Linked DNA regions of Homo sapiens: region 1 is linked to region 2. A link means that fine-mapping ties the variant in region 2 to the expression of a gene that starts in the linked region. Tissue or cell type: whole blood. Region 2 holds a variant in brackets; the other region holds the start of a gene. All regions are shown on one strand. Distances are between the middles of the regions.

Region 1 (6,961 bases), 71 kb after region 2:
GCAGTCTGCAGGAAGGCCCCAGCTGGACCAGCTGCTCACACCTTCCCACAGGCCTGCAGATGGGTGTGGAGAGCAGAGCCTCCAGGCTGAGTCTCCCAGCCCCAGATCTGAGCAGTCTAAATCATCCCCCTCCAGGTTCCCTACGGTCTTATCCACCAGCCCTGCTGCCCATGGTGGCCCCAGATGCCCAGGAGAGATAATAGAAGGTAAGAAGTCATGTTTGAATGAGGAAGCTCTCTTCATTTATTTCATATGAGGATGAAGAAGAGGATTATGTGATCACAGGAATGTTGCATGCGGGATAATCCAAAGCTGGTTATCTCCAGGCCCTCACTCTGCCAAGAGATCTCTCTGGAAGAAGCAGCCAGTTCACAGATGCCCTGGATCCCTCCGTGCCCAATCATAAAAAAGTCATGACCGTCCCTATCTTGCCAATCTGCCAGGACTCCAAGGGGAAAAAGCGGATAAGTATCCTTCAGGAGACAGAGAAAAAGATATCATCAGCTCCTTGGCTAATACCACATCTTGCAAGACCCCTGCCAGGTACTCCCACTGTGGGTACTCAGGACAGCCTGCCTCAGTCCACCAGGCATTTTGCAAACCTGCTCATCCCAATAATGATTTTCCCCAACCCCCAGCAGGGCAGTGGGACACTCAGGTGTGGGAGGTAGCCGCACATCATGACCCAGCTAGGACAGACACACAATACAGTAGCCTCGGTGTGTGTGCCGTACACTCTATCATCTCCATCAGTTTGTGTACTGAGGGGTACCCTGCCTCCTAATTGCAGGCTCCCTAAGGGCACAGTACCTCAGCCACCTGTTTTCTCAAAGGCTGAGCACAGGGTGACCCCCCACCCCACCAACCCCGCCACTAATGTCTGGGCCATAAGTGAACATGCCCCTCTCAGAGGTAACAGCAAGTTTCCAGTGAGGAAAACCAGAACTTGGGACAGCCTGGTTGGGGCGGGCGGGAGTATGAACAGCCTGTCTTCTCATCATAAAATTGGCATAATGGAGATTATCTACCTCATGGGGATAGCATGTCTTGTCTGAGCAAAGGGAGAGTGGATAGGGATTGTAAGGATCAAATGGGATCATGAGTGTAAAGTACCTGTAGAGGACCTAGCACATGGTAAGTGTATAACACTTGTTGTTAGAGTAACAGTTTTCCCTGAGTATCCGTGGGAGATTTGTTCTAGAATCCCCAGAGGAAACCAGAATCTACATTTGCTCAAGTCCCTTACATAAAATGGTGTAATATTTGCATGTAACCTACACACATCCTCTCATATACTTTAAATAATCTCTGGGTTACTTATAATACCTAATATAATGTACGTACTATGTAAATAGTTGTATTGTTTAGGGAATAATGACAAGGAATAAAGTCTATACGTATTTTCAGTATAGATGCAATTATCAATTTTTTTTCCTCTAATATTTCAATCCATGGTTGTTTGAATCAACAGATGCGTAACCCAGTGATACAGGGGGCTGACTGTATTATTCCTCTGTAGCTTGAGGGAGGACCCAGCAGGATCAGCCATTCCTCATCGACCTTCATGGACTAACAAAGGCTCCATTTCAGAAGGTCTTTTTTTGTGAGCCAAGGTCTCACTGTCACACAGGATGGAGTGCAATGCGCAATCATAGCTCACTGCAGCCTCAACCTCCTGGGCTGAAACCATCCTCCCACTTCAGCCTGCCAACTAAGTGAGACTACATGTGCACACCACCATGTCCGGTTAATTTTTAAAACTGTTTTGGGGGATGGCATCTCACTATGTTACCCAGACTGGTCTACAACTCCTGGGTCAAATGAACCTCCCGCCTTGGTCTCCCAAAGTGCTGGGATTACAGGCATGAGCCACCGTGCCTGGACAGTGTCCTTTCAAGCTTCTCATGCCCTTACTTCCTCCTAGACATGGATGTGGCTCAAGAATATCTTTTACCCAAGAGGAAACTTTAACTCGGTCACAGAACGCCAGGTTTGGGTTGCAGACGCTTCTTGTGGGGGAGGGAGGTCTTTTCCCCTGTATTCACAGAAGAGGAGGTTGCCAACTGGAGATGGTTCATTTCCAAGTTTGTCTGGGGTCCCCCAGCTATGCAGGACCCAGAAAGCAGATGTCTAGACATCCAGGCCAATGGTCTTTCACTACTCTGTGAGTCTCCCGTGAACTTCACCTGGAACCTGGCTGGGACACAGGTCCAAAATACGTAACTTCAGAACATACCCAGAATTCCTTCTGACCAGCCTGGAAAAGTTCTAGAAAATCACACTTCAGCCACGTGTACCTACCCTGTCAGGTGCCAAGGCAGGTACAGCACACAGACAATCCCACATGACCCTTGCACTGCCCCGGGGGTGTTAAAAGAGAGCCTTCCCGGTTCACAGACTTACACACTGAGGAGCAGAGCCAGAAATTCATTCAATCCTGCTCGCACTTTGAAGATGGTCCTAACAGCAGGAACCTAAGGGGTCAGGGGGCCCCAAAGCTCCAGACCCTGATGTGTCCTTACTGGGCAGGGCAAGAAATGGGTTTTTCCCCCTGAGGCAGGATCAGTGGCTCCAGTCTGCGGCAGTCCCACATGGATCCCCTACTACCCCTACGCACCGGTCCTGGCCCAGGGCTAGCTCCTTGGTGAGAAACTCAAAGAAGTGGGCGCTGTGGCTGCGGTTGTCCTCGGCGGTGCCCACTACGCCGATGGAGGAGATGGACAGCTGCGCGCAGGGCTCGGTGGACCCGCTCAGCGCCATGGCCAGGCCCGGCCGTACCGTCACGTTCACGCGCTGAGGGGGACATGAAAAGTTTTGCCCGAAGTTGGAGCCGGCCGGGCTACCTCTGGGGACGGGACCCGAGCGCGCGAAAGCCGAAACGCGCAGTGTTCGCGGGGCAGGGATCCCGATACGGGCCGCGGTCCCTGAAGGTCACGCCCGGGTCATGACTGGGGAGGGCGACAAGGGAAAGACGTGCGGAGGGGGAGCCGCGGGATCGTGGAGCACGGAAAGTCAGAGCTTGGCGTGAGGAAAGGAGTGGGGAGTGGTCCCTGGGGAAAAGATTCGGGGTCACTGTCGGGGAGGCGGAGCAGGGACAGGGCCGGACCCCTGGCCCACCAACCTCCCCTCGCCCCGTGCTGCCCGGCCCACGCTTACGTCCGCAGGTTTGCCCAGGATGGAGGCAGCGGCGGCGCAGAGTCGTTTCTCCAGCCCCGCGGGCACTCGGTTGGCGGGCAAATTCGTGTCCAGCTCCAGGAACGGCATGGCGGGCAGAGGAACGGAAACAGCTCTGGCGGAAGAAAAGCTGGGGGTACCCAAGGCTCGCGGACCAGGGAGGAGGGGCGAGGCGCCACAGCAACCTGGCTTCTCATTGGCTGGACAGAGACTCGGCGCTCCCCGATTGGCTGCCTAGGGTACCTCCCGCTTCTGCAAACAAAAGTCACGTGTGCCGGCTGATTTCCGGAAGTCCCATCGTCTCCGCCCTACGTGTAGCCCCACCCACTACAGGTCTTTAACCCGGTAGTGGACCCACCCTGTCTCCCCCGACCCTCCTGCCTGGCGCCAGGTGGGTTTCCCTCTCAAGCTTCCGCGCTGTGGTCGCCCGGTTCCTAGCCCTATTAGAGGTCTGAACACCACACCCCCGACACACAAGGACACACACACACCTATAGGGGTCTTCCCCAGGCTCGACCCTAATAACCAATACAACGGGAGCTTAAAGTTTTTTTGAATGATTTGCCACCATTTCGAAGTCAGGCAATTTCATGTTCAGTATGGAAATCTGCGCTTGGGCAGTCAGGAGATGTGGTTACTCGCGGGGGCGCGGGTAGGGCTAGGCTCACGACAATACCTGTCCCTGCCTGGTCCCCATTGACATCTGCCTGTGTAGCCTCTTGTGCCGGTGGTGAGCCACTGTCCACCAGGGGGTGGCAAAATATGTTCTTTAAAACATGGAAAGGCCGGGCACGGTAGCTCACGCCTGTAATCCCAGCACTTTGCGAGGTCCAGGCGGGCGGATCACCTGAGGTCAGGAGTTTGAGACCAGCCTGGCCAACATGACGAAACCCCGTCTCTACTAAAGATACAAAAATTAGCCGGGCGTGGTGGCAGACGTTGTAATCCCAGCTGCTCGGGAGGCTGAGGCAGGAGAATCGCTTGAACCGGGGAGGTGGAGGTTGCAGTGAGCCGAGATCGCGCCATTGCACTCCAGCCTGGGTGACAGAGCGAGACTCCATCTCGAAAAAACATCAGAAAACATGGAACTCTGTTGGCGTGGCTTAAACATGAGTGTGGTCAGTGTGGCAAAATCACTTGAATTGTACATTACAAATATGACTGAAGTTGTGGTCGAGCAATGTGGCTCACACCTGTAATCTCAGCACTTTGGGAGGCTAAGAAGGGAGGATTGCTTGAGCCCAGGAGTTAAAGATCAGGCTAGGCAACATAGCAAGATTCTCTTCTTTATTTTCTACAAAAAAAAAAAAAAAAAGAAGAAATCTGGGTGCTGTGGTGTGTGCCTGTAGTCCTAGCTACCTGGGCGGCTGAGGCAGGAGGATTGCTTGAGCGCAGGAGATCTAGGCTGCAGGGAGCTATGACTGTGCCACTGCACTCCACCCTAGATGACAGAGTGAGACCCAGGCTCCCCCCTCCCCCACAAAAAAGAAAGAAAAAATTTGCAAGTTTATATGTACAATTTCAACTACGTGTATAAAATTCTCTATAAGTGTGCATACTTAAAGGAGCCTCCACTGAAAGGCCGACAGAGTCTCTGTCTGTCATGATCTTGTCCTATTAGCAGTTTGTTTATTAGATGACTCAGATATCAGAAGGTCTGAGACACACGACAGGTAAATATGACAGTCCTAAGGGGAGAGGGCAGGGACAGGTGGCAAGTCTGGGACCAGGTGTGGGGCATGGACAAGCCAGTGGTCCGGGAGTGGGGTGTAGAGAAGACTGTGGTCAAGGTTATGAGGAGGCATGGGAGAGGGCCAGGAAATAACCAGGGACTTCCCTTCCTGCAAGGAGGTTCATGAACCAGCCCTGCACCCCACTTGTGGAACACAACATCGCCCCACAGTGAGGAGAGAGACCGAGGAGACCAAGGCTGATCCTGATTCAGACATCTTTCCACCAGGTCACCCCTCATCGATGATACATGCTCAGTCCGGGGGTATCCCCCGCAAGGAAACACTGGGGCTGAGGAGCCCAGAGAGGTCGCCTGACCTGGACTGGGGCTGGGGAGGTCAGGGAAGTCTCCCTGGAGAAGAGACAGGGTGCCAAATGCCAAAAGACCAGGAAGGGCACCAGGCGAAGATGAGGAGGGAACAGCATGAGCGGAGGCCAAGAGGCCAAGGTGGGAGCCCAGAGAGGGGTTAGGAGTGTGCAGGCAGAAGGGGCCACCTGGAGGAGTGGGAGCAAGGCCTTGAATGCAAAGTTCAATGACTTGTACTTTAGCTTCTGGGCAGTGAGGAACCATACAAAGTTCCACACAGAAGGTCAGGGTCAAGTAAGCGTTTGCCCAAGCTCTTTTCAGAGGTCACATGGAAGCTAGAATGGAATGGGGTAGGAGACAAAAGGAATGCAGGCATGATATCTGGAGGAACTGTGGACCAGAGCCTTTGCAGATATGTCTTCTCTTCAACCAAGGAGACGGACAGCTCCATGTCTTTATTCTACCAACACAGCATCCCCTCAGTGGCTCAGCAAGTGTGGGACACGCACTCACAGCAAGAAAAGCTGCATTAAGGTCTTCAGATTCTCTTTAACAGCAGGTTCTACTGGAGGCAGGTCCTTGGCCTTCAGGACAGCTGGGAGGGCCTCCTGGAAGAAGTCCTCCCGCACTGCAGCCTCCACGTGTTGGGCACCATGCTGCCACCGTGGGTCTGCTTTCAAAGACTCAGCAGCCAGCACTGATGGGCTAGGGGAAGACAGAGTCAGCGGAGGGGCTGGGCATAGCCAAGTGTAAGGCAGCATGACCTGCTTTAGGGGTTCTCTGATTGGATTTTCCCTCCTCCACCATGTGTGTGATGGGCTAGGATGTCCCCCTCCCTGGGGACACTTGGAAGCCTCTTAATATAGCTGCGGTGAGGGGTTTGTAAAGCCCCATTTTATAGATGAGGACACTGAGGCTCAGAAGGAGAAGTGACTCACACAGGGTCCCACAGCCAGAAAAGACAACATGAGCTGGGATGTCAGCTCCCTTCCCGGATACACCACTGCCCAGCGGGCCACCGCACCCCATGGCACTCTCATGCCTCAGCTCCGTGATTGCCACCAAGCCAGCCACAGAGATACGGGGCCCAGTAAGGAAGGCCTGGTCCCGCAGGAACTTGTCCTCGAGCAGCTGCAGGCATCCGTCCAGCTCAGCCAAAGTGGCCGCCAACATCTCGGGTGGCACTGACTCGCCCAGGAACACAGGGATTATTATCTGGTGGGCCGACAGGCAGAGAGAGGGGTCAGGGTCTGCCCAAAGCCCATCCTGGTTCCCACCATCATCCTATCATCACCAGTCCTTGGGATTTCTGCTCACCTCTGCTCACTTCTTTCCACTCATAGCCACCAGTAGCTCTCATCTCCTACTCAAACAGGGACAGCCTCCCCCTTCTCCCTGGGTCCTCACACAAGGCAACCAGTGGGATCCTTCTGTAATCTCAATCTGCCCGTACCCTCTCTTGCATAAAGCCTTCCATGGCTCCCCACTGCCCTCATGAGAAAGGCCTCAACACAAAGCCAGCCTTCTCCAGTGCGGTAGCCATCCCCTCCCCACTTTTCACCTCACCTCCTACTACCCCCCACTTATCAAACGGGAATGTGTGTATGAATCCTCCCTGGAATCTGGTTACAGTTTATGCTCCCAATCAGTAAGGTCAGAGTGGGGCCTGAGCCTCTGCATTTCCAACAAGCTCCCTGGTGATGCTGATACTCCCAGTCCATTGACCACACTTTGGATAGGAAGAGTCTA
Region 2 (7,711 bases):
ATGAACTTACACACATTTAACATTTCGGCACAGGTCAAGTAACTACAATAACCTATATACAAGACAAACAAGACAAAGTATATTTAGAATACATGCGATGAGTATTGATGCAGAAATGGACATTTCTCAGAATAAGATATGACTTTACAGATACCATACAGAGAATATGATTTCATGCAGATGGAGAAGATGTGGTGGGAGTTGTGGGAGAGCAATAGAAAATACATTTCCTGGCTGGGTGCAGTAGCTCACATCTGTAATCCCAGCACTTTGGGATGCCAAGGCCAGGAGTTCAAGACCAGCCTGAGCAACGTGGTGAGACCCTGGTCTATATAAAATATATTTTTAAAAAGTTTCCTGTACCTAGAAACAAATCCAAGATGTACTCTACAGAGAACCTCTACAGAGAAAACTAACACCCTGAACGTTATTGGAGAACTAAATAAATGAAGAGACTGACCATGTCTCTGTGTTGGGAACAGGCCCCCCAAAATCTGGCCATAAACTGGCCCCAAAACCGGCCATAAACAATATCTCTGCAGCACTGTGACATGTTCATGATGGCCATAACACCCATGCTGGAAGGTTGTCGGTTTACCAGAATGAGGGCAAGGAACACCTGGCCCACCCAGGGCGGAAAACTGCTTAAAGGCATTCTTAAACTACAAACAATAGCATGAGTGATCTGTGCCTTAAGGACATGTTCCTGCTGCAGATAACTAGCCCAACCCATCCCTTTATTTTAGCCCATCCCTTTGTTTCCCATAAGGTATACTTTTAGTTAATCTAATATCTATCAATGCTAATGACTGGCTTGCTGTTAATAAATACGTGGGTAAATCTCTGTTTGGGGCTCTCAGCTCTGAAGGCTGTGAGACCCCTGATTTCCCACTTCACACCTCTATATTTCTGTGTGTGTGTCTTTAATTCCTCTAGCGCCGCTGGGTTAGGGTCTCCCCGATCGAGTTGGTCTCAGCATCTCTGTACTGGAGGCAATATTGTGCTCGTAACAGTTCTGTCTGGTTGATGATTCAGCACAGTCCCAATCAAAATTCTAACAGATTTTTCTATGGGAATTGACAACCTAATTCTAACATTTATATGAGACTCTAAATGACCAAGAAGAGTCAAAACATTTTCTTGTAGAAGGCAAGGTGTGAGGATTTGCTTTTTCAATGTTAAGACACATGATCAAGCTACACAATTAAGGCAAAGTGGAATCAGAACATGGCAGACAACAGACCAATGGAAAAAAGAGCAATCCAGAAACAGACCTCTCCACACACATGGACACAATATCAGACTGGGGGAGCATTGAAATCCACATGAAAAGAAGAACTCATTCAACTAGGGGTGCTGGGCAGCTGGCTACCATGTAAGGAGAAACATCAAACTGGGCTCCTATTTAACTCCCACACAAAAGTCAGTTCTACATAGATTACAGCCATAAAGAAAAGGCCACAAAGATCTTAAAAGATGGTGTAGAAGAATATCATCTTTATGATTTAAGTAAGATAAAATGAGTACATACAATAAGGAAAGATTGACACACTATTAGTGAGACACCGTAAGAATGAAAGACATGCTACAATTTCTGCAACTTATCTTAATGCAAGTGAGCCCCAAAACTGGGGCTCAGCCTGAGAGCGTTCTTGGCTTTGCACAGGAAATAATTTGAGAGTGACCCAACAGAAAAGAGTGAAAGCAAAGCAAGTTTATTAGAGCAACAGAGTACAGAAAAGTGGGTTTCATAGAGCATCCATACAGGTGGATGGGGTTTACAGGGCTACCCCATAGGCAGAGCAGCACTCCTGGACTACCAGCTATCTATATGTATAGCTACTTCTTATTATATGCTAAATAAGGGGCAGGTTATTCATGAATTTTCTAGCAAAGGGATCCGGAGTTCCTGGAACTGAGGGTTCCTCCCCCTTTTAAATCACATAAGATAACTTTTGGGTATTGCCGTGGCATGTGTAAACTGTCATGGTGCTGGTGGGAATGTCTTTTAGCATGCATTATCACTAGCATATAATGAGCAGTGAGGGACAAAAGTGAGGTCACTTTTGTTGCCATCTTGGTTCCAGCTGGTTTCAGCTGATTTCTTCACTGCATCCTGTTCCGACCAGATTCTGTTTTGATCAGCGGGATCATGACCAAGGTCTTGACCAGTGCTTGGAAAACAAGTTCTGCTGATCTCCTATCTCAACATTACATTATTAGGAAACCCTATTTAAAAAAATGAGCAAAGGACTTTAGAAGCCACTTCACAAAACAGAATATCCAATGGAAAAGTTGTTCATCGTCAGTAGAAATCAGGGAAATAAGAACCACCATGACACACCACTACTAACCTCCTCAGCTGTAACGTGCCCACAATCCCACTCCTCGATATATTTATCCCGGAGAAACTTGTATCTCGAAGCAACCCAATGTCCATCAATAATTGGATAAATTATGCTTGTTCATTCATGGAATATTCAACAGCAGTGAAATGAACAAGCTATAGGTACAAATATCACCACGGTCAAATCTCATAAACATATTGAGCAAAAGCCACAAGATATATATATATAATGCAGTTCCATTTATATAAAGTTTGAAAACAAGGACCCCCAAACTGTACTGTTCAGAGGACCACGTGTAGGTGGGAAAATTGTGATGAAAGCCAAGAAATGATTTCTATCACTGTCAGGACAGCGGTCCCACTGGCCAGGGGCATTTGGGAGGTGGCAGGGTGCTGCAGTATTTTTCTCTCTGTTCTTACAAGTGCCTATATATATTTATTAAACCTTATGCATTTATGCATTTTTCCATATCTCATACTCCCTGATACAAAAGTTAACATGCACAGTAGAAGGGAGTGAAGAGGAAGTGAAGAGCACCACCACCAGGCCGACCGTTGGGTACCGTGCCATGCAGAAGCACTGCCCAACTGCCCCATCCCACTAAGACCTTGCCAGACACTGGCCCATACGGAGGGCTGTTCCCACTTTGTTGGCCTCTTCCCCAGCCCACCCCCAGCCTCCCTGAGCTTCCCACCACAGTGTTTCTGCTGGGAGTGGGGGCCGTTCTTCCTCACCTCCTTGTTTCCCCATGAGGTGCTTATGTCCCTAAACAAGCACCTCCTTAGCGCCCCCCGTCTAGCTCAGTCTTTCTGGGCCCTGCTTTGCTGTGTGCTCCCTGCCTTCTGGCATGTGCTATGACCCTCACAACTGTGGTGGAGGCCCCAGGATTGGAATGGGAAGAAAGGCGTGTTCTATTTAAGCCCCCTTAAATCCAGCAGAGGCTTTGAGCTTTGAGTCCTCAAGTAACCACATAAAGTCTGAGGCTTTGGGGATGCCTGGTGTGTGCGCGGGGGCTTCACAGGGACCACACTGGCTTCTGGCCTTGGCAGTTCCCCACAGAGCTTTGGAGCCACGAGCTGATCCTTACAGTCTTAGGGTTGGCTTTTAACTAGTGGCCCAGGCCGGAGGTTCCATCTTGCTGGTATAAAGTAAGGTCCATGTGGGGATATGACCTTTGGCAACTCAGGGCAGTGCTTTGGGGATGGTCACAGCTCAGAGCCGTGTTCTCTGACTCCTGCACGGGCCTCCTATTAATCCAAAGAGAGACAGTGCAGAGGAGGCTACAGAAGGGTCCCAACCTCTGAGGCATGAATGGAGGAGGGCAGGCCCAGGCTTGCTGCCTTTACTGTGTTCTCAGCCAGGTCTGAGATCACCACTTCCAACTGCGAAGGCAGCAAGGGGCCGGTGCAACCTGGTATGAGTCTTGTACCACCCACAGTGGAGTTGTGCCAGATGAGCTGTCCTCAAAGCCTCCTGCCAGAACAGGGACTGGGGAGGGTCCCTCCTGAGCCCACGAAACACATCCCTAGGTCTGCTGAGTTAGTCCCCTTGTGCGGCTCAGCTTGGCTCTCGATTTGTGCCTTACATACATTTTGTTTTAATTTGTTGTTTCTTTTTAGAGACAGGGTCTCTCCCTGTTGCCCATGCTGCAATGCAGTGGTGCAATCAAGCTCACAGTAACCTTGAACTCCTGGGATTAAGCCATCTTCCCGCCACAGCTTCTTGAGTGGCTGAGACTACAGTTTTGTGCCACCATGCCCAGCTAATTATATTTTTATTTTTGTAGAGACAGGATTTCACTAGGTTCCCCAGGCTGGCCCTAAGTGATCTTCCCGCCTTGGCATCCCAGAATATTACAGGGATCACAGGTATGAGCCACCGTGCCTGGCTATTACGTACATTTTGACCCAGGAATTGGGAGACTAAAGTCGTGGCTTTGCCCACAGAAAGGTAAGAGTTTGTTAATGGACAACAGCATTAAAAGGAATCAGGGCCCTTCAGAGAATATGCTATTTTCTTGGGTTGAGATAGAGAAACAATGAAATCAATACGCATCCAAAGCTAGCAAGGGCCATACAAATGGCTTGTGCTGAGAACCGTCTGTCCCAGGGAATTGGGTTTA[C/T]TTGGGAGATCCAGAAGGAACTGGAATGGTTTGAAAAACACACCACAGTCTTACCCTTAGAATGGGAGCAGTGGTGTCAGGAGGCAGGCTGTGCAGAGATGAGGGATCATGGGACCCTGGAGTGGGCCAGACCAACTTAGGGGACAGGAAAGCTCCCTGATGTGAGGGGAGGGCAGACGTTGGGAACAGACAAGGTCACCACCAGGGAACCAGGTGACCCAGAACACTCTTGAGGGGGGGCCATTCAATGCTGCAGACAGCAACTCCGTAAGAATCAGAAGCCATTCCATGAGCCAGGGCAGCCCTCAGAGGCTGTAGGGAATTTGGGCAAATTAAAGGACAGAAGATCAGCATCAAACATTGAAAATATTTTAGGTATACCTGGGGACAGCATAGTTACTGTGGGTGGGTGTCTGGGGTTGCTCAGGACCTAAGGGAATGCATTTTTTAAATGTAGGGATTAGGTGTCAAGGAGGGCTCAGTGGAGTCCTCCCTGAGGAGAGCACAGCCAGTCAGGAGAGAGGGGCTGACGGCAGGGAGGCTGATGGCCATGGCCGCCATCTCTTGGGCGCAGCTGTGGGACTGTTTCAACAGCAATTCTTGTGGCAAACCTGGGATTGCCTGGTTTTGTTTTCTGTTGCCAGGGGAGACCCCCAAGTGACAAAATCTAGAGGAACAGATCAGAAAAAGTAAATATATGGGCCGGAAAGCAAAGAGAAAGTAAAAGGAGGGAAGGCACTGGGGTTGAACACAAATGACCAGCCCTGTGTGTGAAGACTGCCAGCAGCCAGCACAACTGCCAGGGCCCCAGCTGAGCCATGCTGGGGATGCAAGCCAGCAGTCGCATGAGGAAGCACAGCTGTGGACATCTGTCCCCAACTGCTGACAACTGTGCTGCAGAAACAGTGCTGCTCAAGACTGGGAACATCCCCAGTGGAGGACAGCTAGTGTCCTGAGAGCCAGTGGGACACAGCCACTGCTCCCTGGTGCTCAGCTCAGCAACCTGCTGGGCTGTGCTGCACTGACTGGGGCAGGATCTCTTAGGACTGAAGACATCCATGCAATGGGCATACAGAGGGAAATGGAAATGATGAGATTTCACACATATGAAAAGGAGAAGGTATTATAAATAAGACCCAGGCAGGTGATGACTGCTTGTACAGATACGCTCAGGGAGGAGGACAGCAGAAATTGCTTCCTGCTCCACCCCAGCGGGGTCGCCAGGGCTAATGCTAACCCTCCACCTGGTTAGATATGCTGTGGGGTCTAGGGTTTGTCTTCCCTGTCTACTCTCTTTCCATCAGCTGCCAGGGCATTCCTGCTGGAGTACTGAGGTAGCAGGAAGAGAGGGCTACATGGGGCTGGGTCCGGGATCCTGGAGACATCTCATGGCCTGCATGCTGCTCTAAGGACTTCCCTGTGGTTGGCGAGCAGGAGGCTGAGGCTATCACCATCTGCTCATTCCTAGTAACTCTGGGTCTTTTAAAACTGGAGCACATGGCAGGCTAGTGAAAATGCTGAGATGTGGAGAGAAGGATCTCACTTTCCAGGACACCCAGCCCTCCCGTGCCTACTGGGCCACTTTGCTCACTGGGTGAGCACAGAGCCTCGGGGAGGAGGTTAACACCACTGGGCTCTGACGGATCCCTGGGCTCTCTTTGATTGCTTTGGGCTTGAATCCTTTGACCTTAAGACTTTTTTTTCCCTTTGGACTTTAACCTAAAAGGACAAGGGAACTTAATTTTTTGACTTGAATTTGACCCTAGGAAATTTATGAAAGACATTTCTAGGTTGACTTTTTATCTGGGTATCTGGCATCTTATATATCTGCAGAACCTCTGACTCAAATTTGAACTTTGAGGTTGGACCTAATTTAGGATGGGAAAGTAGGAAGAGTAGTAAAAGAATGTGTCGTCTGGAGTCCAGGCTACCCTTGGAATTAAATAGCATTGAATGATGACCCATTCCAAGTCCTGGGTGGGGGGAATCTATGCTGCCCCGAGGTCTCCAAGGGGGAGTGGATAACACAGGGGCAACTGGGCTTAGCAAGTAGCAGCAATATCGCTGACCCCTGAGTTCAGGAGCAGGGGGCAGTTTCAACTCGGCTCCTTGGGTCTTCCCTTGGGATTTGGCCACTTTGCCATGTGGGTGTCCAGCAGTGCCCTCTAATCTGGGGTGAAGCAGAGCAGCCTGCCCAACTTGTGAAGGTCTCTCTCCACCACCCCAGACCCCTAGGAACTCCCAACTGACTGCTGATATCAGACCTCCTGCCTCTGTCTGGGCCCTAAGGAAGTGGTGTCCTATGTGGTCCCCACCCTACTCTGGGACTCCTCCCTCCTTTTTATCCCCAATGCTACAGTCAGCCTTGGTATCACTCCCGATTTCCACAGGCCTGTCCCAGAACCCCTTACACCTGTTTTCTCTTCTGGAAGTGAACCCTGAGCTAACATTTTAGGTAATTTTTTTTAAGGACCCACTCTGTCCATATTGCAAGAGGCAGAATATGTTCTGATAGCGGAGGCCATGGGGAGCGGGAGAGGGAAGAGGAGAGCTTACAACAGATATCACCCACTGTCCATGCTGTGAGCCTGCGGTCCCCTGCTGCTGGGGCCTCTGCAGGGAGTTGGTGAGCCTGATCCCTGGACCTAGAGACTGAAGTGAGGCTTTGCAGTCCCTCGCTGAGTGAGACCCCTTGCTGATCCCTGCCTGGTGGGCTCCCAAGGCCCCCCTGTTGCAGCCCCTGCTGAGCATCCTCCTGCATGCACTTTCCAACCTTGGGGGACCCTTCTCCTGGTCCCCCCAGCCTTAGCTGGTTCTCTTCCCTGAAGGCCCCCGGAGGCGTAGGCTGGGCTACCCCAGCAGCGGGGGCCTGGCTATGTGGGGAAAAGAAAAAGAGATCAGATTGTCACTGTGTCTGTGTAGAAAGAAGTAGACATAGGAGGCTCCATTTTGTTCTGTACTAAGAAAAATTCTTCTGCCTTGAGATGCTGTTAATCTATGATCTTACCCCCAGCCCCGTGCTCTCTGAAACATGTGCTGTGTCCACTCAGGGTTAAATGGATTAAGGGCTGTGCAGGATGTGCTTTGTTAAACAGATGCTTGAAGGCAGCATGCTCGTTAAGCGTCATCACCACTCCCTAATCTCAAGTACCCAGGGACACAAACACTGCGGAAGGCCGCAGGGACCTCTTCCTAAGAAAGCCAGGTATTGTCCAAGGTTTATCCCCATGTGATAGTCTGA

Evidence for each region. PIP is the estimated chance that this variant, and not a neighbour inherited with it, causes the effect.
Region 1: DDT starts here. The variant in region 2 is fine-mapped to the expression of DDT in whole blood (TOPMed, PIP above 0.99).

What each region holds. Positions count from the first base shown.
Region 1 is chr22:23,971,151-23,978,111 of GRCh38, forward strand. It overlaps DDT (D-dopachrome tautomerase), which reads right to left and starts at 3,291. Exons shown (of 3, transcript NM_001084392.3): 1 at 3,157-3,291; 2 at 2,618-2,793; 3 at 220-473. The coding sequence starts at 3,264. The coding sequence ends at 401. DDTL (D-dopachrome tautomerase like) reads left to right here. Exons shown (of 3, transcript NM_001084393.2): 3 at 136-1,406. The coding sequence ends at 256.
Region 2 is chr22:23,899,738-23,907,448 of GRCh38, forward strand. No RefSeq gene overlaps it. Among named protein-coding and RNA genes, the nearest start is that of MIF-AS1, 4.7 kb to the left of the region's middle. RefSeq lists an enhancer at 7,107-7,711. The variant C/T (reference allele first, on the strand shown) is at 4,471.